Linked DNA regions of Homo sapiens: region 2 is linked to region 1. The links come from fine-mapping of genetic effects on gene expression. A gene starts in region 1. The other region holds a variant in brackets. All regions are shown on one strand. Distances are from middle to middle.

Region 1 (9,904 bases):
AATTCTTAGAATAGTTTATTTTTTAGTATCTTGGAATAATGTTATATATATTCAAGACATACCATGGATTAAAATAATTCATAACACTTAAAACAGAAAATAAAATGTGTCTGGACTAGAAACCAACCAATAGACAAACATGATACATGCAGGGTGGCAGTCTGCTCCTCTAAATAAATCTCATCATGCAATCTATCCTTCAGGGAACAGGGGAAAATCAGCTGGGGAGAAATCACCTGAAATACCTTTGGGAAGGTAAATAACTATTATTAAGGCTTGAAACAAAGTAATATTAAATAAAAAAACCTTTCCCAAAATCATATAAAGAATAGGACATGGATCTGCAAATGGCACCTGAAGCAGTTTTTCATTAGCACCTTGCTGTGTGTGATGTTAGAAAGTTTGGGGGTTCAACAAATGAAAACACCTAAAGGATTAACATTACAGGGTTAGACAAGATGGAAAGCATTTCCCATGCAAGAATGAGCAGGATAGTCAAACCTGTACTGGTCCCTTCTACTGTGGAAAGCACAAAACAAAAAGTAGAGGGTACACTATCAGATGAAGCAAACATGTGAAAACCAGTTTGATTTTTAAGCAGCTCAATTTAAGAAGACTCATTCTTACTCAGTATTAGCATTAGCAAAATCTTTTACATAGTCTCCATTTCATCGTGAGATTATTCAAACAGTTAAAAGTTCTTTTCTCTCTTGGAATTTATCCCACCCACATTCTATTGGAGATCTCTCAAGACTATAAGAGTAGGGAAGAAAGAGAAAAAATACCTCTTCCTAAGAATAAAGGATTCCCCAGATGCCAAGGTATGGACCAGAATATACATCCGAAAGCATGACTAATAAGCTTCTTAGCCAATGCCCTAGCCAGAACGACCCAAAAATCTCTCCAAGGCAGGCCTTACCAGTGGGAGGCTGTCCATAAGAAGTTGCATAGGCGGTCTGCCCATAGGTTGCAGTGGTCTGAGCCTGGGTATAGCTGACATCAGTGGGCTGTCCATAGGTTCCATAGCTTTGTTGCCCATATGCCTGCTCCAAAAAAAAACGAATGCAAGAACTTCATACATGAACTTTTGTATTTTAGCAATAAAATGGACTAAATTGGAGAACCAAAATCAAAAACATTCCTTTCTAGAAGATTAAAAAAACAAAACAAAAACAACAAAACAAGACAAATAATCACAGTATCATGAATGTTATCCCTTATCTGGTTCACTCATATTATGGTAAAGTTAGCTACGGAAAAAGCTCATTAGGTAAGTAGGCAATGTCATTCACAGCTTCTCAAAAGGGGGAAAAAAAAGATAATCAGGCAAAACCTCAGTTAACTATACATGAGATTAACAAGACACTCTCAAGGGAAGAGCAATAAGGGCACAGGTGTATTAACTGCTAGCACTTAGCGTAGCACAGTTTTAGTGATTGGAAACAAAAGGTACGAAGACAAATGAACAGAGAAAGCAATGAAGAGGGCTAAAATCTGTCAGAAAAAATTGAAAACCAGATTTTCAGCCTGACAAAAAGACTTTAAAACTACTATACCACTTCAAAGAAAATGAACCAGAACGCTGTATGTCCTCTTATGGTGGGCACATCAAGAGTACTGTCTTTTGAACTTAGACATCCATAATACTTAAAATCAGGCAAGGAAGAGTTGTTCTTTCAGATATTAGCATGATTATTCTCTAGGTTTGTTTAAATGACCAGTTATGTAAGATCTGCCAGAGACATCACATTCTGCTTGTCCTAGAACATGTTTCCATGGCAGTTATTAGTATCCATTTTATGGCATGGATCATTTCAGAATTCAACATTATCTTGAAAACACTAGAAGGCTAATTTCTAGAATCTGTTGGCCTAGGCTTTTCAACAGACTCTTCACTGGAAAGAGCTCAGCAGCTCCTTGGCTAGGTCGCCAGTTTTTAGAGCTAACCCCGCCACTTACTGTGCAACCACTGGCAAGTTACTTAATATCTATGCACTGCAATGTTCTCCTCTGCAGAATGGTCATATCATCCTCTTCCTTTGCAGAATTGCTATGATGAATAAATTCACTAAATTTAAACATAATGAAGAAGGACCAAGCATGGAACAGGGCACCTAACTTGAGAAATCATATTAAAAAGTTATAAAGAGTCAATTATCAGCTTCTGAATGGTTTCATTTATGATGGCACAATGGAGTCCTTCGCACTCCCACTGTGAAAGTTTAAAATGCCTGGGTATTTTACTATTCCAAACACATTACTCATTTGTTTTACTGGATAACTGAAAGATAACTGGATAATATACTGATTTTACTTGGAGGTGCAGCTACATGTAATTATTTTAAAGATTACCTGGGTGGTCTGTGCATATCCTTGAGTGGGCTGGGCGGTGTAAGCACTGTAGCTGCAAAAGAATTAAATGCAATAACTTGAATAGAGAACATTCAAATACCACCTCTACAATTATAGAAGGCTCCATATTCAAAAAATATTAATCACACACAAAATACGGTTATAAAAGACTGACTTACCCCTGCTGCGCTGCAGCTTGGCTATAGGTACTGTAATCTAGAGGAAAACAAGGAGGAAAAATAGTGTAAAGTTAGCAGAAACAAGGAGAAGAGAAAAAAGGGGGAAAGAATTCACGTGGCAGGAAGAATTCTTTAAACTGTAGGGAGACCTGCCAACACAGGTCCAAATGAGTCCCCCTTACCTCTCAACATCTAACAGAAAAAAAAGTCTAAACCAGTTAAACTCAACATTTGACTGTGGGACTAGCTAATGAGGTCAAGATCAGCTGATTTGGCAGGTATACTTTTTATGTTCCCATGACCACAAAACCCATCCCAATCCCAACTGTCATTTAAAATACAGGATGATCATCAATATCACAGACTGACAACAAGATCTACTAACAGGATCAGAAGTTTCTACCCTCATATAAAACGGAGGCATGCAACAATAATACAAAGTTTAACACTAGATTGGTTACGTTAGAACCTACCTCTCCTCAAAAATTAGTTTTCACTCCCCTCACTTTAGCAAGTTAGACAAACCATCATTCCCTAGCTCAACGACAGTGAAACGGAATGGCAGACAAGAAGGCAGTCACCACACTCCAGTGTTTTAAAGGGTTTGCTGTGTCAGAACTATATTTGTGCAGCAACTTAAAAGCTAGATATATTATAAACCCTGGTGAAGCAGAGCTAAGGCAGAACCCTGAAGACTGGCAAAGAAGAAAAAGCATTTAGTCTTTCTGGGAAAAATTTGGTAACACCATTGTCTTTCATACAACTCAAAATGATTTCAACTTAAAAAAAAGACATGAATTTTCATCCCTTATCTAAGTAAACCTCCCTATAATTTTCCTTTTCCTATGAAATTTATAACATGCATCCAAAGGGACCAAAAACTGGTCCACTGAGGTGTCTACAAGTAGTAAAAACAAACGGAAAATAGTTTTCAGAGCGCTACTGCATTAAAGTTAGATAAATTTAGTTTTTTTTTAAAGGCAGTTAAAGTAATTATTTTTGAAAATTCTGCCCAATTCTTTCTTCTCCACAAGAACACATATCTTGTTCTGTCTGAAGACAGTACTGCCATTAGGACGGAAAAAAGGGGTCCTTTATTTTCCAATCAGAAAGTAGTCCCTCATCCAAAACCAACAATTGACAGCTCTTCATGGCATCCACTTCATGGAATCCAAAGCCAGCCTCACAATCCCTCGGCGGCCTGAGAGAGCTTTGCTGAATCCATCTCTTCACGTTGGCTTATCTGCCTACCTCTCTGTACTTTACTGGACTACTTTCTTTCCTTTGTACACACTCTTAACTCAAAACCCTGAATCACCAAGAGGAACAAATCAACTGCCCAAAGGCTAACCTATAATGAAAAAAATAATCTGTTCATGACAATCTTAAAGGCATTTTCAATAGCACTACAAGTCATACTCTCTCTGACATTAAAACTAAATGCAGATCATTTTTTCCATGTGGCATCTACAAAATAAACACAGCAATGAATCATTTAACATCAAATATTTTAACCCACGTTTTGTTGAGGTCTTTGCTTGAGAAGTGATTGTAAATCACTGTCATGTAAGTTCAACGTTTGCAAGACGACTTTTACGCAAGAGCAGTTATGTAAAACATCAAACTGGCAAAGCTGATATGGAACAACCAATGACCTCTTATCAGTGAGAAACCACAGGATTCGGCCCTATACTAACTGGTGGGCTATAGAAGGTAGCAAATTTGTTTCATGAACTTACATTTATCTTCCTAGAGCACACAAACATCACAGGCCCTCAAGCAAGCTATTAGGTTGATGCAAACGTAATTACTTTTGCACCAACCTAATACAATTACAAACTGGTCAGATTATTCAGCAACCGTGTTCGTTTTTAACCCCCAAAAGTGAGCCACTGACTTCACTAAAAATCACTTCACTGTGATTGAGCGCTGGGGGTTCTAGATTGCTGCGAGTCTGCATTCCAATTCTTTGTTGCACTGGATATATATGCTTTACGTACTTTTCTACATGAGATAACATACGAGGAGAGAAAACTTCTATTATTAACCCAAGGCAACGGTTTAACACTTTAGAGCAGTCACTATGGAAGCTGCTTCACACTACCTGAGTTGAGCTTCACAGTACCTGAGCTGAAGTCAGCATAGGACAAATTTGTGGAATGCTTATGCTGGAAGGTCAGAAGGGCTCAAAAGCTTAAGAGGTCTAGCCTAACTTCTGTATTTTACAGGAAAGGAAACTAAGGACCAGATTACTTATGTGACTCTCTGAAGGCCCCCCCAGCCAGGCCTAATGTGTTTACTTTGTGTCAACAGAAACCACAACTGTAATTCTAATACAGTACAGCACATGGTAGTTACTGGTGAACAAGGTTTGAACAAAGTTGACTGAAAAAAGGCACGTCCAGCCACGCAAAAATGTCAACGCACACGTTTTGCCTTTTCAGGCTTTTGCAGAGCAGAAGAGGGTGGATAGGGCACCTAGGAAACCACTTCCCACCGGGAGGTTAGCTGTGGTATTTCAGTCCTCTCTTCTACCGGCACTCTTTGGTATCCACTCTTTGGTATCCCGGCACGAACAGCCAACACTTACCTGTTTATTGACCACAGATGGGGAGAATTCTTAAACTGTCCTTAAGTTGCTGGATTCTGGACTCCAAAAACTCTGGAGTGCCCAGAACTTTTCCTGTCTTCCTTCTCATCTTCTCCCACTGTCTCTAAGGCCTGGAACCAGGTGGCCTGAGAATACCCCCGGGGCAAAAATGCTCCACCCTGCCAATTTTCGCGGGTTAGTGTACCCACAGATTGCGAACTGCAGGTGATGGCTAGGCGACACTCTTAAACGCTCCTTCCATCAAGGACCACTCTACTCCCATTTTGGAGTTCCCAACCGGGGCTTGCTTGCAAGTGCCTTTAAGATTGCTTCTACTGGCCTTTTTTCCCCTCTCCTCTGTCGACCTACGAAATCAACAGGCCTGCCGGCCTAACGCAGGCGAATAAACGTGCGAGGCCACTGCTGAAACATAATTCAAATGAAGGCTCGGCCTTTTGTTCCTCCTAGGTCAGAGAGACCAGAAATATCTTTCTGGTAGCGTTTCTCGTCTCTCGACCCAGGCTGGCCTTATTATACAACGGATGTCCCTCGGCGTTTGCAGAAAAAGGGCCCTGGGAAGCCACTTAATTGGTTTTGGGGGAGGGGAGGACGTGGATTAATAACGATAAAAATGGAGAAGCCCAAGAAAGCGGCAAACTGGGGGCCCTGGAGGAGGGAAGCACATTCTGTCTAAAGCCCAGGCGAGCAGAAGTTCGGCTTGGGGCTGGAAGCCACAGAGGGGGCAGCTCGGCAGCGCCAGACGCCCCAGCCGACTGGGTCTTAAGGATGACGGGGCTCCCGCTCATAGGCCGGCACCCCTCGGCCCACAAATCCACGGTATCTTTATTTGCTTTTTCCCCTGGTTTCTCAGGAAACCCTGAAAACGGGGAGGGAGGCCTCACAGGGACAGCAGCCTGCGGGCCCCCCGGCGGTTTCATAGTGACCGGCTTGAGGCCTGGCCAAATCCTCCCCTTCACGCAGGGCCTCGAAGGCCGCAGGCCCCGCCCACGTGGCGGGAGGCCCGGAGCTCAGGGCGCGAGGACCGCCACACAATGGAGGCCAAGGCGGGCCCCGCGCGCCCCCGCCGCAGCAAGCCCCCCGCGCGCCACGGGCGCCGGAAGATTCCAGAACCGGCCCGCCCGGTTGGGGGAGGGGAGAGGAATGCGGATCCCCGAGCTCGTCGGGCCGCGGCGGGTGCCTCAACCCCCTCTCGGCAACTCCACTCAGTCTTCCCAGCCAAGCCCAGAGACGAACGACCCCCAGTTTGGGCGTTCCGGCTACCGCCGGCGCGACCGCAGTTCCACCATACTCACCCGTGGACGCCATTTTCTCTCCTTCCTCCTCGTTCTCTCAACGTCCGTCTCCCTCTCGCTTTCCCTCTAGGCGCCGCACTGCGCAGGCGCAAATCTCGCAACCCCGGGCGCGACCATCGGGCCAGGCCACGGGGGTGGGGTCAGGAGGGATGAACCACCGCTTACTCGTTCTTCGCGTCCGCAACTCTTGTCCCAGTCCTCTCTAAAGAGCGCCCGACGTGACACTCGGGCCAAAATAGCATCTAAGGGGCCAGAGCGGGGGTGAGCGGGTCTCAGCGTGAAACCGGAGAGGCTCTCAGCACGAGACTAGGCTGTTTGGAATGGTTCCGTCCGCTGGCTCTAGGGACGGTCGCTGAAGAGTCGGCCCTGCAGGGAGACGGAGATCGGCGGGAGGGCTGGGGGAAGGGACCCGGACTAGAACAACTGCTGACTAATCCGCGGGCCGCGGGGAATGGGTGGCGCGCCAGCCGGTCGGCAGGGGTCACGCGGCCGGGTGTGCGCGGAATGGATTCAGGGTTCTCGGGTCGCGCCCGGGAGCTAGAGTCCTGACTCCCAGCCGGGGTCCCCGACCGGCCTTTCGGGGTTGCCGGGCGCGCTCTGCAGTGAGTACCCGGGACGCGTGGCCCGGGCCAGCGGGGAAGGGTCCCCAAGGCCGGTCGGCTGGGTGGGAGGCCTCGAACGCCGTGCCTGGCCCCGAGACCCTATCCCCGGTAACGGTCGAGGTGGAGCAGGCCCTTTAATCATCCCTCATCCGATATCCTTGTTTCTACAGAAGGGGAAACTGAGGCCCAAGGAAATTGAGTATCTCTGCAAAGTCACCAGCTGAGTTCGAACCAGACAGATCCTGGGACCCCCTACTCTATCCGCCACCGGAAGAATCTCCGTCCTTGTCTTTCCATTCTGCCCTCCCGGCTTCCCAGTAAGGTAGGCAGGGCCTGGTGGTGCACTGCCCCGTTTCATAGATTGAAGAAAGTGAGGTCCAGGGGGCTCAAGTCCCAGTTCCGAGTGTCCACGGGTAAGCCCTTCACCCTTGCTAAGGTGCCCAGAGCTGGGGAATGGTTGTGAGGTGTCGATGCAGGAGGAGGTTTACGGTGGGTGCCTTGGCCCCAAACCCTGCCTCCAGGCAAGGCTGACCCTGCCCACCTTCCTGGACCTCTAGCCCCAGCCCCCTAGGTGGATGCCCGGGTCCGCGAAGGGCAGGGTTCACCTTCAAATCCCTCGGCAGGACCAGGAGCCAAGCTAGTGTCCTTTTTTCAGTGAACATATATAAAGCACTGGCTGTGTGCTGTGAATACCCTGGGGAATGTGGGGTTGGATCAGAGGAGCCATGAGCTCAGACCACCTGCCTAGGGAGACAGACTGGCCAAGCTGTGCTCCTAAGGATAAGATCCATGATGTTAGGGGGCCAGAGGAGGGGAAGGGATATTTGAGCTGGGCTTCCAAGGGTGAAATAGGAGTTTGCCTGCTGGCAAAATGGAGGGAAGGACAATGCAGGCAGAGGAGCTTTCCACATTTTTCCTGCAGGAAACTGGTAGATGTGGAGAAGGCGCTTGGCAGGGGAGCAAATTAGGCAGCCTTCTTGTCTCTCTGGGATCCTGCTTCCTGCCCTGAATCAGCTCAGTGGGAGTCCTGGGACCGAGAGGCCTGACCAGGGGTGAAGACCTACAGGCCCTGGAGGACAGGCTGGATGCAAGAGAACAGCACGGGGGAGAAGGCCTTGCTTTGGTGGGCAGGGAAAGGCCATGTTTGAGGGCCAAAGCTGGGACCAGCTAGGCTGGAGCAGCCACCTCCATATTGAGGCCTTCTCGATGGGCCAGTTGGTGGCTACAGACGCCTGCCATGATTAGTGCGGATTGCTATGGTTTATGGAGGAAGAGTTGTGGGCCAGGGCCTGCCTTAGCCTATTCCTTTTTATTTCATCATACTCTGAGGAAAAGAATTTATGAATTTCCATTTTACAGATGAGAAAGGAGAGGCTCATCTGTAAAATGAGGCTCATCTGTAAAAAGATGAGGTTGGAAACTTGCCTCAGGACACAGAGCAGAAAGAGGTGGAGCGCATACTGTACCCTTCCTGTGGAAAGGGGAGCCAGGGCCAGAGGGGCTGTGCCAGTAAGGAAGCAGGAGGAGGCTTACAGTGGATGGGTTCACCCTCAAAGGGGATGTCTCAGTCGCAGGTCTCTGAGTATGGCTCAAGATGTGGGACTTCTGCCCATCTGCCCTACCCCTTACCCTGTCGGCTTGCCCATTGTCTGGCCCCACCCCAGGGTCAAGGGCAACTGAAACCATCTGGAGCATTAAGGCTGGGAACAGGGGAGGGGAGGAAGGAGGGAGGTAGTAGTCTGAGGGAAGGGGGAGGACAGAAGAGGGCTAGAGATGGCCCTGAATTCGCCCTGGGGGGTGAGGGCCTGAACCCCTCTTTTTGGGAGTTCAGGGCCTATCAGGACTCAGAAGTCTCTATGCCTGTCCCCTGCCAGTCCTTAAACAGAGGTGAGTGGAATGGTAAGATGGCTTATGAGCGCATGGGTTAGGGTCTGAGCTCCACTAAGGCCAAGCTGCTGGGCCTGCGTCTCCAGCCTGTTTCCACCTCTGTAAAATAGGGCTGTTGATAAGGTGCTTGAGAGGGTATTGGTGAGATAAAAGCTCCAGTAATAACTTGTTATTGTTTTCTTTTATCCCCAGCACACAGCCCCAGGACCACCCTTGACCGTCCTCAACCAAGCGATGCATGCCAGGGGCCCCCATGGCCAACTGTCCCCAGCACTGCCTCTGGCCTCCTCAGTCCTGATGCTGCTGATGAGCACCCTGTGGCTGGTGGGGGCCGGCCCCGGCCTGGTCCTGGCCCCGGAGCTGTTGCTGGACCCCTGGCAGGGTGAGGGCCAGCCACGTGGACCTTGGAGGAAGCAGGAGACTTGCTGTAGGGCCTGGGCCCACTTGGCAGGAGCAGCACAAGGCCTCCAGGGGTCAAACAGGGATGGGGCCCAGTGTCCCGGGAAAGCATGGCCTTAGACAGGAGCATGCCCAGCACATCCACAGCCAAGAAGGGAGGCAGAGGACTCCCTAGGGTGGGCTGGAACCTATGGGTAGGAGTGCTTTTCTCATGGTTTCCCTTTCTAGCAGCTTTTCCTTGAAATAAGAACTAAGGCCAGGTGGCTGACGCCTGTAATCCCAGCACTTTGGGAAGCTGAGGCAGGTGGATCACTTGAGGTCAGGAGTTCGAGACCAGCCTGGCCAACATGGTTAAACCCTGTCTCTACTAAAAATACAAAAATTGGCCGGGCGCAGTGGCTCACTCCTGTAATCCCAGCACTTTGGGAGGCCGAGGCGGGCGGATCACGAGGTCAGGAGATTGAGACCATCCTGGCTAACACGGTGAAACCCCGTCTCTACTAAAAATACAAAAAGATTAGCTGGGCGTAGTGGCGGGTGCCTGTAGTCCCAGCTACTCGAGAGGCTGAGGCAGGAGAATGG
Region 2 (10,247 bases), 130 kb before region 1:
CTGCTGGCCCTGCCCAATGGCTAGTACCCACAAAGCCTCCTATGTCACCTGGTTACCAGGAAACAACCAAGTCAGGCTAGTGGCTCACAATGGCCGACCCCACAGACCCAACCAATGGCTCACACCTCCCTGCTGCTGCCCACCTTGTGGCCACCCTGTCCCTCTGTGGTGACTGCACTATTCGTCCTGGGCTGCCTGAGCTTTCCAGTCCTGAGAAAAGTGCAGGGGGGCGGGGGTTGTTATTGGAAGTCACCCCGGGCAATGAACTCAATGGAAAACCCTGGTTACTAAAGTCAGTTCCATTAGCATCTCTGTTTTTCTGAGTCTGGCAGCTTTCGTTTGCTCACCAAATGTAGTTATACACAAATTTCGGACTGCTTTGTAAGTAAATGCTTCTCTCCTGTCTTACAAGTGTTAGTTTTTGTCTTCAACTTGACCATAGCAACTCCTAGAGCCCTGGTCCCACTCTCGATAAAGCGTGATGACTGTGACTTGAATGAAACCCTAGGACACATCACACTTTCCCTTCCTTGTCTATAAAATAGGGACTGAACTCATCCTTCCCAGTTCTGAAATGCTAGGACCTACCAACTCTCTTTTCTCCCTCTGTTTCTTTCTTCCATGGCAGGGATATTCAGATATTTCTTTTACTAACAATGCATAAAGCGTGTTTTTCTTATACAAAATTGAGAACCACTGTCCTCATTTGATGAAGATGAATAGTAAATATCTGGCAAGCCTGACAGTGTTCCAGCTGTGGTATACTAATTTAACCCCCAGAAACCATTCCATTTTATGGATTTTACAGAATCAATCTAGATGGAGAAGTTAAGTAGCTTTCTCCAAGTTTCCATGACGGCTCAAGATGGGGCTAGGATTTAATCCTGAGTAATCTTGATCCCCACAAGCCGATCATGGTTATCAGAAAGTAAAGGTAGACGTCATGCTTGGAGGGGCAGTGACCTTGTAGATTAGTATTTTTTTTAAAGAATAACAGTTTTTTGATGTGGATTTTAAAATGCCTCCCCTTCATTCAACATTAAGTCTAAGTGCCAATACTGCATGTGTGAAACAGTCCCAACCCTCCGTGAGTTCAGGCAGATGAGCAAACAAAGGCTTAGAGGATTCAATTGTCTGAGGCTACACTGCTGGACAGTGAATCAACCTGGAATGAAAACGCAGATCTATCTGACCCAAAATTAGATGCTGGGGTAGAGTTTGAATTTTATTCTGGAAACGAGAGTCACTGAACCACACAGGGGTGAAGAGTCTCTATCCGATGTGTTTGCAGTGACGTCACTCTGCGCAGTGGAGAGGGCTTTATGAAAGCAGTGGGGCTGATTAAGATACTCTATGTTCATCTGGAGAACAGTAAGGCTAAAAAGGCAGCAGCAGTGACTGAAGTGGAAGGAAAAGTTTTGTGATCAGCTGGGAGATAGAAGAGGAAGTGCTTGGTGATTAGACGTGGAAGAAGAGGGGAAGGAAAAACAGGCTGCTAAGGCCCTAGTTTGATGGACTGTGTAAATAGCAGTGATTCTCCCCTAGACAGAGAATGTAGGACGAGAAAGAGGTGTGGGGAATGAGACAGTTTTGAACTCTTTAAGTGTCACATTGAAATGGAACCGTCTGGTTGAAAATTGGATATAAACCTCTGTAGGCTAAGTCCATTCTGTGACATCCCAACTCATGTTTTCAAAAGTAACACACACACAGTAACTCAAATCATTAAGGAAATTTCCTAAAATTTACATACTAAGAATATGACAATTTTTTAGTGATTACTTTCTTAGGGAAACTTTGAATTTATGGTTGTAGCGAATGAGGTGTCACGTAAAATAAAACTGTTATATAAGAACAACATTTAAATTCTATTGTCATAACAGCATATACAATACAATTGAAGCCATGGGTATGACCGTGACTGCTTTAAAAGGCTGTGTCTAATAAGGGGAGGGGTTTGGAGAGAAAGGAGGCTTGGGGAATAGGGAAATGTACGTGGCATGAAGTAAAGACTGCAAAAGTGAAAAGTGAGAGTCAAGGCACCTGAGTGTTCATCAGCAATGGCTGATCTGGTGGGTCTCATCGGAATGGAGGTGGTGTCTGCTTCTCATTTCTGTAATGGCCTCACCTAGCACAGGGCCTGGTCAGTAGGTACTTTATACCTAATACCCCAATCAACAGAGCCATATTTTGCCAAGAAGGCAGAAAAGCCACAGATGCCATTGCCTGTGGCAACTCAGTGATTGAGGATGTGTGTGAGTAAGCTGAGCGTCAGCAGTGGGGAAAGAGTGAACTAGAGGTGAGAAAGTAAAGACATCAACTGAGGGCTTCTCCTCCTAAAAGTATGGCTGAAAAGAGAGATGTGGGAACAGTTGAAGGGAGATATATGGTTAAGAAAGCTTTCATTCCCCCCCCATAAAGATGAGTATACTTTTATCCTAAATGGTAAGAACCAATAAAGGAAACATGTTTACAATTGGAAGAGAGGGAGAATTAATAACACATGATGCCCAAGAAGGCACAAGTTCATGCAATCCAGAGTGAGGACAGATTAGCTTCGGACTGATACAAAATCAAGAAGGGAGAAAGCACTGTGTGACTAGAGACATTTCTTCTAAAGGAGAGGTTTACAAAAAGCTCTTTTCATGACCAGCTCTCTGAATAGACTTGTCAGATAACTACTCTAGGAAAGAGGCAATTATGTATAGAGAAGTCTACACTTTAGAAAAGCTTGATAGGCCGGGCGTGGTGGCTCACACCTGTAATCCCAGCACTTTGGGAGGCTGAGACGGGTGGATCATGAGGTCAGGAGATCGAGACCATCCTGGCTAACACAGTGAAACCCCGTCTCTACTAAAAATACAAAAAAATTAGCCGGGAGCGGTGGCGGGCTCCTGTAGTCCCAGCTACTTGAGAGGCTGAGGCAGGAGAATGGCGTGAACCCAGGAGGCGGAGCTTGCAGTGAGCCGAGATCGCGCCACTGCACTCCAGCCTGGGCGACAGAGCCAGACGCTGTCTCAAAAAAAAAAAAAAAAAAAGAAAAGAAAAGCTTGATACACCTTACAATCCCCAAATAATGGCTTTCTTCAACAGTGAGTAAATTGAAAAGCAATTTGAGCAAAAACCCAGAGGCTCAAATATGAATAGGTGCATCACAAAAGTTGAAGAGGGGGCTAATTAACTCCCTCAAAGAGTTAAAAGAAAAAGCAACAACTGCGAGAAGAGTGAAAAATAAGAATAAAAGTATATGTAGTTGCAAAAAGTCTGAATGTTTACAAACCCTGTGACCACAAAAGGGGCCACAAAAGGGGCCACAGGGAGTGTTATCACAGGAGGAAAACGGTTGCTTCAAAAAGCAGAGGAGCAGGGGTAATAAAGATTCCATTTAGTTGAAAAGATTTAAGTAAAGTTTGAGGACAGTTAGGTGACATGTTGAAATGTGGAAAACCACAGTGGAAGGGGAAAAGACCCGATAAAGTTCAGTTTCAGCAACCAACATCCGATGAAATCCTCAGGACCCAGTGACTGCATTCTATGTCAATAATAATATTGGCTGAGGTCCCAGGAATGTCATTAGATACCATTTTGGATGATTCTTATGGACTTGAGGTGAGGTCTATTTTGTTCCAAATCAGTGCCTCCATTTAACAACAGACGTACACAAAAATACGTATCCATGACCAAGAAAACTGAAGAATTTTAAACTTGCTAAGCAGGACTATACTGGGAAGCATTGTCATGAAAATAGATTTTAAAACTTTTTTTTTTTTTTGAGGGGAATTCTGGAGCACATTTAAAAAAACAAAACACTATCCTTCTATGACAGGTGCAAGTTTGGGAGAGCAAAGGAAAGCAAATAGAAGTAATGTGACTTAAATTAATCAATACTTTAATTCTATGAAGGAAGCTGAAACCTTATTTATTGGTGAGTCTGAAGTAAATTCATTTATTCACCTATTCATTCAATAGTCATTCAATACCTGTGCCCTTAACACGTGACACACACTTTGTAAGTGTTCTGGAGGTCGCTTTGACCAAGATAAACAAGATTTCTGTTCTTGTGTAACTTGTCTTCTAGTAAGGGAGTCAAGAGACAGTGTGGCCCATCCCTGCTATCTTTGTGGCCTAGGGTGGCTGTTGATCTTCAGCTTTTGTATATTCGTTCCAGAGAGCAGGATGGAGGACAGGAAGAAGAAGGAAGATTTTCTGGAAGTTCCACATAGGACAGTGCTTACAAATCATTGGCTTAAAGGTTAGTCATATGGCCATACCTAGCTACACGGGAGACTAAAAGAAAAACCATAATCATCACAATGATTGATGACTACGGTGTGTTCTTTGTGCACCACGCATAGTGCATTGCCTCCTTTAGGCCACATAGCAGCCCCGAGGAATGGGCATCAGAGGAGACAGAGGCACAGAAAGGGCAAGTGACTTGCTCAGGGTCACACGGCTAGAAACAGCAGAACCTGGGTCCCGATCTAGATCCATGTGGCTGTCCTATCTTCCTCCCAGCTCAGCTCCTTTCCAACTGCACGAGGATTGCATGCCCTCAACTACGAAATGGGGATAACAACTGTGCCTGCCCCGTGGGGATATTTTGCAGATTAAGGGAGCCAGTCCAGTTTCATGATTTTTGCGTGGAGTCTGGCACATGGTGAGTTTTTGGCAAATGGCACCGCCATCATCATCACCATCATCACCATTATTACGAGTCCTAGCTGGAAGCCAAATGAGTGATCATCCAGTCCAGTCCCCTTGTTGTACAGATGGGAAACTGAGGCCTGAACTGGGGTCAGTGGATCACTGTTGGTAATTAGCAAAGGAGTAACAGAGATCTTCATGAGGCTGAGGCCTGCCATCTCCAGCCTTCCCACACCCCCATGAGTGCAGCCCCAGTGGTGGTCTCAGATGGCACTAACCAGCTTCGTACCACCAGCTGCCCAGGGTAGAGCGGATGAGCCACAGCACTGAGAGCTCTGACAGGTGCAGCT[T/G]GCTGCTTTGCGTGGGGAATTTGCCCTGCTCGATGTGGGAGACCCCTCGGGCAAGCCAGATGCCAACCCCCCCTTCCATGGATTCTTCCCACTTCCCAGCCACCCTGTCACACTGAGGGCCATCATTGTCCCCTTGGACATGGCCTCAGAGCCCCCTGGGAACTAGCCAAGGCCCGGGCTGGAGAGTCTGGGTGTCATGAAGTCCAGCTCAGCCCCAGATGGAAGCTCAGCTTCCACATGCCTCTTTACCCAACTAGAAGTGGGCACTACTCAAGCAGGGTCCCAATCTGCATGCAGAGACCCAAACCCCACTCCTGGGAGCATGTAACCCTATCCCAATAGGAGAATGGGGGTTAACACTCACCCACAGAGTCCCATCACCACTTTTGTTCCCAGAGTGCCCCAGTTCCAAGATGCCCACTTATCAAAAGACCCTCTATTGATACAGAAGATCTGGTTTTTAGGTCCAATCCTGGGTTTTCTTTTGTTCTGTTTGGCCCATCGGTCGGCAGGTAACTGCAGTTTCTTGCTGTTGGCACTGGCTTGGGAAAAGTCTGTCCTCGTCCAGCCACTGGTAGCTACAGGGCGGTTAGGAAAACTGGACTCTGAGCAAGTCCCACCAGGAGGACCCAAGGCTGATGGGTTTTGGAGACCTCACGCTCTAAGGACCTGCCTTAGAGCTGAACCAGTTGAAGACCTGAATCAGTGTATCCCCCCAATTCAGTCAGGGTTCAAGCACAGAAACGGAAACACCAGGGCATATAGATTAAGAGATTTGTCTCAGTTGTTGAACTTATGTCATTGTGGGAACTACTTAAGAAGTTTCAGGTGGCCGGGCGCGGTGGCTCAAGCCTGTAATCCCAGCACTTTGGGAGGCCGAGGTGGGCGGATCACGAGGTCAGGAGATCGAGACCATCCTGGCTAACACGGTGAAACACCATCTCTACTAAAAATACAAAAAAAATTAGCCGGGCGCGGTGGCAGGCGCCTGTAGTCCCAGCCATTCGGGAGGACTGAGGCAGGAGAATGGCGTGAACCCGGGAGGCGGAGCTTGCAGTGAGCCGAGATCAAGCCACTGCACTCCAGCCTGGGCGACACAGCGAGACTCCGTCTCAAAAAAAAAAAAAAAAAAAAAAAAAAAGAAGTTTCAGGCTGGGTGTGGTGGCTCACACCTGTAATCCCAGCACTTTGGGAGGCCAAGGTGGGTGGATCACTTGAGCACATGAGGCAAAACCCTGTCTCCACAAAAAATACAAAAATTAGCCAGGTGTGGTGCACGTGCCTGTAGTCCCAGCACTTTGGGAGGCCAAGGCAGGAGGATCACTTGAGGCCAGGAGTTCGAGACCAGCCTGAACTACATGGTAAGACCTCCCTCCAACCTCTATTTTTTTTTAATTAATACAAATTAAATTAATACAAAAGCTCCCATTTAAGGGGGACTTATAGATGCCAGGCACTGTACATTAGTTCTACAATTTAATCTCTACAGCAACCTTGCAAGAAGGCACAACCAACCTATGTTAGTCTGTCTTGTGCTGCTTTAACAGAATACCTCGGTAATTTATAATAAACAGAAATGTATTTGGCTCATGGTTCTTGAAGTCCAGAGTCCAAGGGCATGGTGCCAATATCTGCTCGGCATCTGGTGGGGGCCTCCTTGCATATTCCCATGGCAGAAAGAGAGAGAGTGAGAGAGAGTGCAAGAGATCTAACACACAGCCTCAAGCCCTTCTGTGATTGGCATTAATCCACTCATGAGAGTACAGACTTCATGACCCAAACACCTCCCATTAGGCCCCACCTCCTAACACTGTTGCAGTGGGGACTGCCAACATGTGCTTCCTGGGGGATGCATTCAAACCATAGCAAGTCCCATTTTTCAGACTGGAAACTGAAGTCCCATAGCTGAAGATCTGAGCCCAGGTGGGGTTGAGAGCCTGGGCCTCTTCTCTTCTCTTTTCTCTTATCTTCTCTTCTCTTCCTTCTCTTCTCTTCTTTCTCTTCTCTTCTCTTCTCTTTTCTTTCTCTTCTCTTCTCTTTTCTCTTATTTCTCTTCTCTTCTCTTTTCGACAGAGTCTCGCTCTGTTGCCCAGGCTGGAGTGGACGGGCATGATCTCAGCTCACTGCAACCTCTGCCACCCAGGTTCAAGTAATCCTCCTGCCTCAGCCCCCCTAGTAGTTGGGATTACAGGCACTCACCACCATCCCCAGCTAATTTTTGTGTTTTTAGTAGAGACAGGGTTTCACCATATTGGCCAGGCTGGTCTGGAACTCCTGACCTCAGGTGATCCACCTGCCTAAGCCTCCCAAAGTGCTGGGATTACAGGTGTGAGCCACTGTGCCCATCTGAGAGCCTGGGCTTTTTCGATGCATCGGCGGAGGGTAGTTCAGCACAGGGGTACCTGAGAGAGCAGAGCTCTTCAAGAGGGAGCCTGTGGTGTACAGCTAGGAGGGGCTGAGCAGGAATTTGCTACTGGGAAGACTAGAAATGGTGCACTGAGGACATCTGCAGCAAGGAGAGCTGGAGGCAAAGGCTGGGATCCCTGGCAAGCTCTAGGCCTCTCTGCCCTGGGGGTTGTGCCAGGCCTGGGCTGGGCGGGAGGGATGGGAAGCTGCCTGCCCTCAGCAAGCAGGTGGAGGCTGGTGTTCCTGAGGCTATGGACAAAGCCACCTCCTGCCTCCTTTTAGAAAGGCTCTGTGGCAACTTTTAGAGATTTGCAGGATGAAAACAACAAAAACCAGCAAGCAAACAGAGACTGGAGTAGAGGAATAGTAATCACAGAGGAACAAGAGTGCGGAAAGGCTGGGAATGTATATAGAAAGGCACAGCGGCCCCTGTGAAAGGATGGCAATTGAAGGGAACGGTGGCGGTTAGTGGCACCTGTGCGCACTCTAGTGGGCGCAGAGGGGAAGAATACTTAATTTGTTCATGTACTTATGCACCCATTCATTGTGGAGGGAGGATGGGAAGGACTTTGCTCTGAGATTCTGAGTATCAGAAAGGGGAAGGGACTTGCTGAGGGTCACAGAATGCCAGTGGCAGGGGTCACAGTGGGTCATTTCACGAGACCGCACGAACTCTCAACCTTCCTGGCATTGGATGAAACCTCATGAAGCAGGTAAGGGTGAGTGGAGAAGAAAGCATGAGGCCTGCCGTCATCAGCCCTGGCCTTGACTCTCCGCTAGGCCCATTGCTGCTTTGGGAAGCTGGGAAAGTCCCTCAACATTTCAGGACTTCAGTGGCCTCATCTGTAAAATGGGGTTATCTTAGCATCTACCTATTGAGAACGGTGAGAGTTAAATGAATTGATGGATGTCAAGGGCATACAACGATGCTTGGCCCATGGTGGGTGCACAGTTCGCAGAGAAGAGAAACTGAGGCCCAAAGAACTGGCCAGGCCCGGTGCAGTGGCTCACGCCTGTAATCCCAGCACTTTGGGAGGCCAAGGCGGGCAGATCACCTGAGGTCAGGGGTTCGAGACCAGCCTAGCCAACATGGTGAAACCCTTTCTCTACTAAAATACAAAAATTAGCCAGGCATGGTGGTGGGTGCCTGTAATCCCAGCTACTCGGGAGGCTGAGGCAGGAGAATGGCTTGACCCCAGGAGGTGGAGGTTGCAGTGAGCCAAGACCGCACCACCGCACTCCAGCCTGGACGACACAGCGAGACTCCGTCTCAAAACAAAACAAAACAAAACAAAAACAACAACAAACAAAATTAGCCAGGAGTGGTGGCACAGGCCTGTAATCCCAGCTACTCGGGAGGCTGAGGCAAGAGAATCACTTGAACCCAGGAGGCGGAGCTTGCAGCAACAAAAGCGAAACTCTGTCTCAAAAACAAAGAACTGGACAGCCCTGTCTCCACCAGCCAGCTCAAATCGGGCAGGGTATAAAAACACTGGGGCTTGGAGAAAAGTTTTAAAATGTCCTGGCTGGGCACAGGGGCACATACCTGTAATCCCAGAACTTTGGAGGCCAAAGCAGGAGGATCACTTGAGGCCAGGAGTTTGAGACCAGCCTGGGCAACATAGTGAGACCTCATCTCTAAAACAAATAAAAATAGGCCGGGCGTGGTGGCTCATGCCTGTAATCCCAGCACTTTGGGAGGCCAAGGCGGGCAGATCATTTAAGGTCAGGAGTTCCGAGACTAGCCTGGCCAACATGGTGAAACCCCATCTCTACTAAAAATACAAAAATTAGTTGGGTGTGGTAGGCAGATTGGGCAAAAAGAGTGAGACTCTGTCTCAAAATAAATAAATAAATAAAAATAAAAACTAGCCAGGAGGTAGTATTATTGTCAGGAAGTATGTATTTCTTGGGAGGAAGCCAGCGCCCTCTCTCTCTCTCTCTCTCTATCCAGGTGGGCTTGGCTACCATTGGCTCTGCTCCCCACATCCTAGGGCAAGGAGTTTCTCCTGGGCCTGGGGTCTCAGAGGGCCGGGGCACCCACATGTGCCCCAGGTGTGGCAGTTCCAGTTGTAGCTGTCAGCATTTGATGGTGTGGATGACTCAGGCAGTGTAGCTAGGTGGGTTTAGTGGTGGGGGCAGAGAGGGAAGTTCCCTTAGATGCTCCCTTCCCCACTTCTGTCACCCACCTCTGCAAGCTGTAATTATCCAGCCTTTTACTTTGAACTGTACTTCCTCTTACTAGTATATTTTTAGCTCTCCTGCCAGATCATGCTGTGGGAGAGCAGGTCCAGGCCCTCATGGAAGTAGGGAAGAAATCAGTTCTACCCACTGGTCTTTTCCTTATCTCTACTTGGGGACAGTCATGGAACTGTCATGGAATTATTGGGAAAGTTTAATGAGTTAATATGCAGAGGCGCTTCACACAGTGCCTGGTTAATGGTTAACTATTAGTAGTAGTCTCACCCTTCACAGTTCAGGTTGGGTGTCACTTCCTCCAGGAAGACTTCCCTGACTTTCCCAGGCTGAATTTGGTGCCTGCATCCCCTGTGCCTCCCTGGTACTTCCTACCACTCTGAGTTATAATTGTCCCTTTGTTTATCTTTCTCCCATACTCAACAGTGAGCCCCCAAGGGGGGATTGTGCCATACCCTGTTCACTGTTGCATCCCCAGTGTTCCTGGCTCAGATGGCAGTGATGATTATATTTTAGGAGAATGAATGAAACTCATGACAGCTGGGGCTCTGGGACCAGGCCCTCAGCCTTGTCACTCACATGCTATTTAAGTTCTCAGGGTTGAAGTTCCCCCCAAGATGAAATGGAGCTAAAACAACCCCTTCCTCATGG

Direction of the effects. Positions count from the first base shown, and alleles are read on the strand shown. Sizes are in standard deviations (SD) of each study's normalised expression.
For the expression in prefrontal cortex of the gene that starts at base 6,803 in region 1, G is the low allele of the variant in region 2 and T is the other (small effect, 0.29 SD a copy in GTEx).

The links. PIP is the estimated chance that this variant, and not a neighbour inherited with it, causes the effect.
Region 2: its variant is fine-mapped to the expression of RHBDD3 in prefrontal cortex (GTEx, PIP 0.98).

Annotation. Positions count from the first base shown.
Region 1 is chr22:29,264,880-29,274,783 of GRCh38, reverse strand. It overlaps RHBDD3 (rhomboid domain containing 3), which reads left to right and starts at 6,803. Exons shown (of 7, transcript NM_012265.3): 1 at 6,803-7,036; 2 at 7,207-7,358; 3 at 9,116-9,305. The coding sequence starts at 9,158. EWSR1 (EWS RNA binding protein 1) reads right to left here and starts at 6,516. Exons shown (of 17, transcript NM_005243.4): 1 at 6,435-6,516; 2 at 2,532-2,568; 3 at 2,353-2,404; 4 at 920-1,043. The coding sequence starts at 6,447. RefSeq lists enhancers at 4,919-4,968, 6,431-6,490, 6,601-6,660, 6,053-6,924 and a silencer at 6,171-6,260.
Region 2 is chr22:29,392,786-29,403,032 of GRCh38, reverse strand. It overlaps a transcript of RFPL1 not described here. Among named protein-coding and RNA genes, the nearest start is that of AP1B1, 9.3 kb to the right of the region's middle. The variant T/G (reference allele first, on the strand shown) is at 4,995.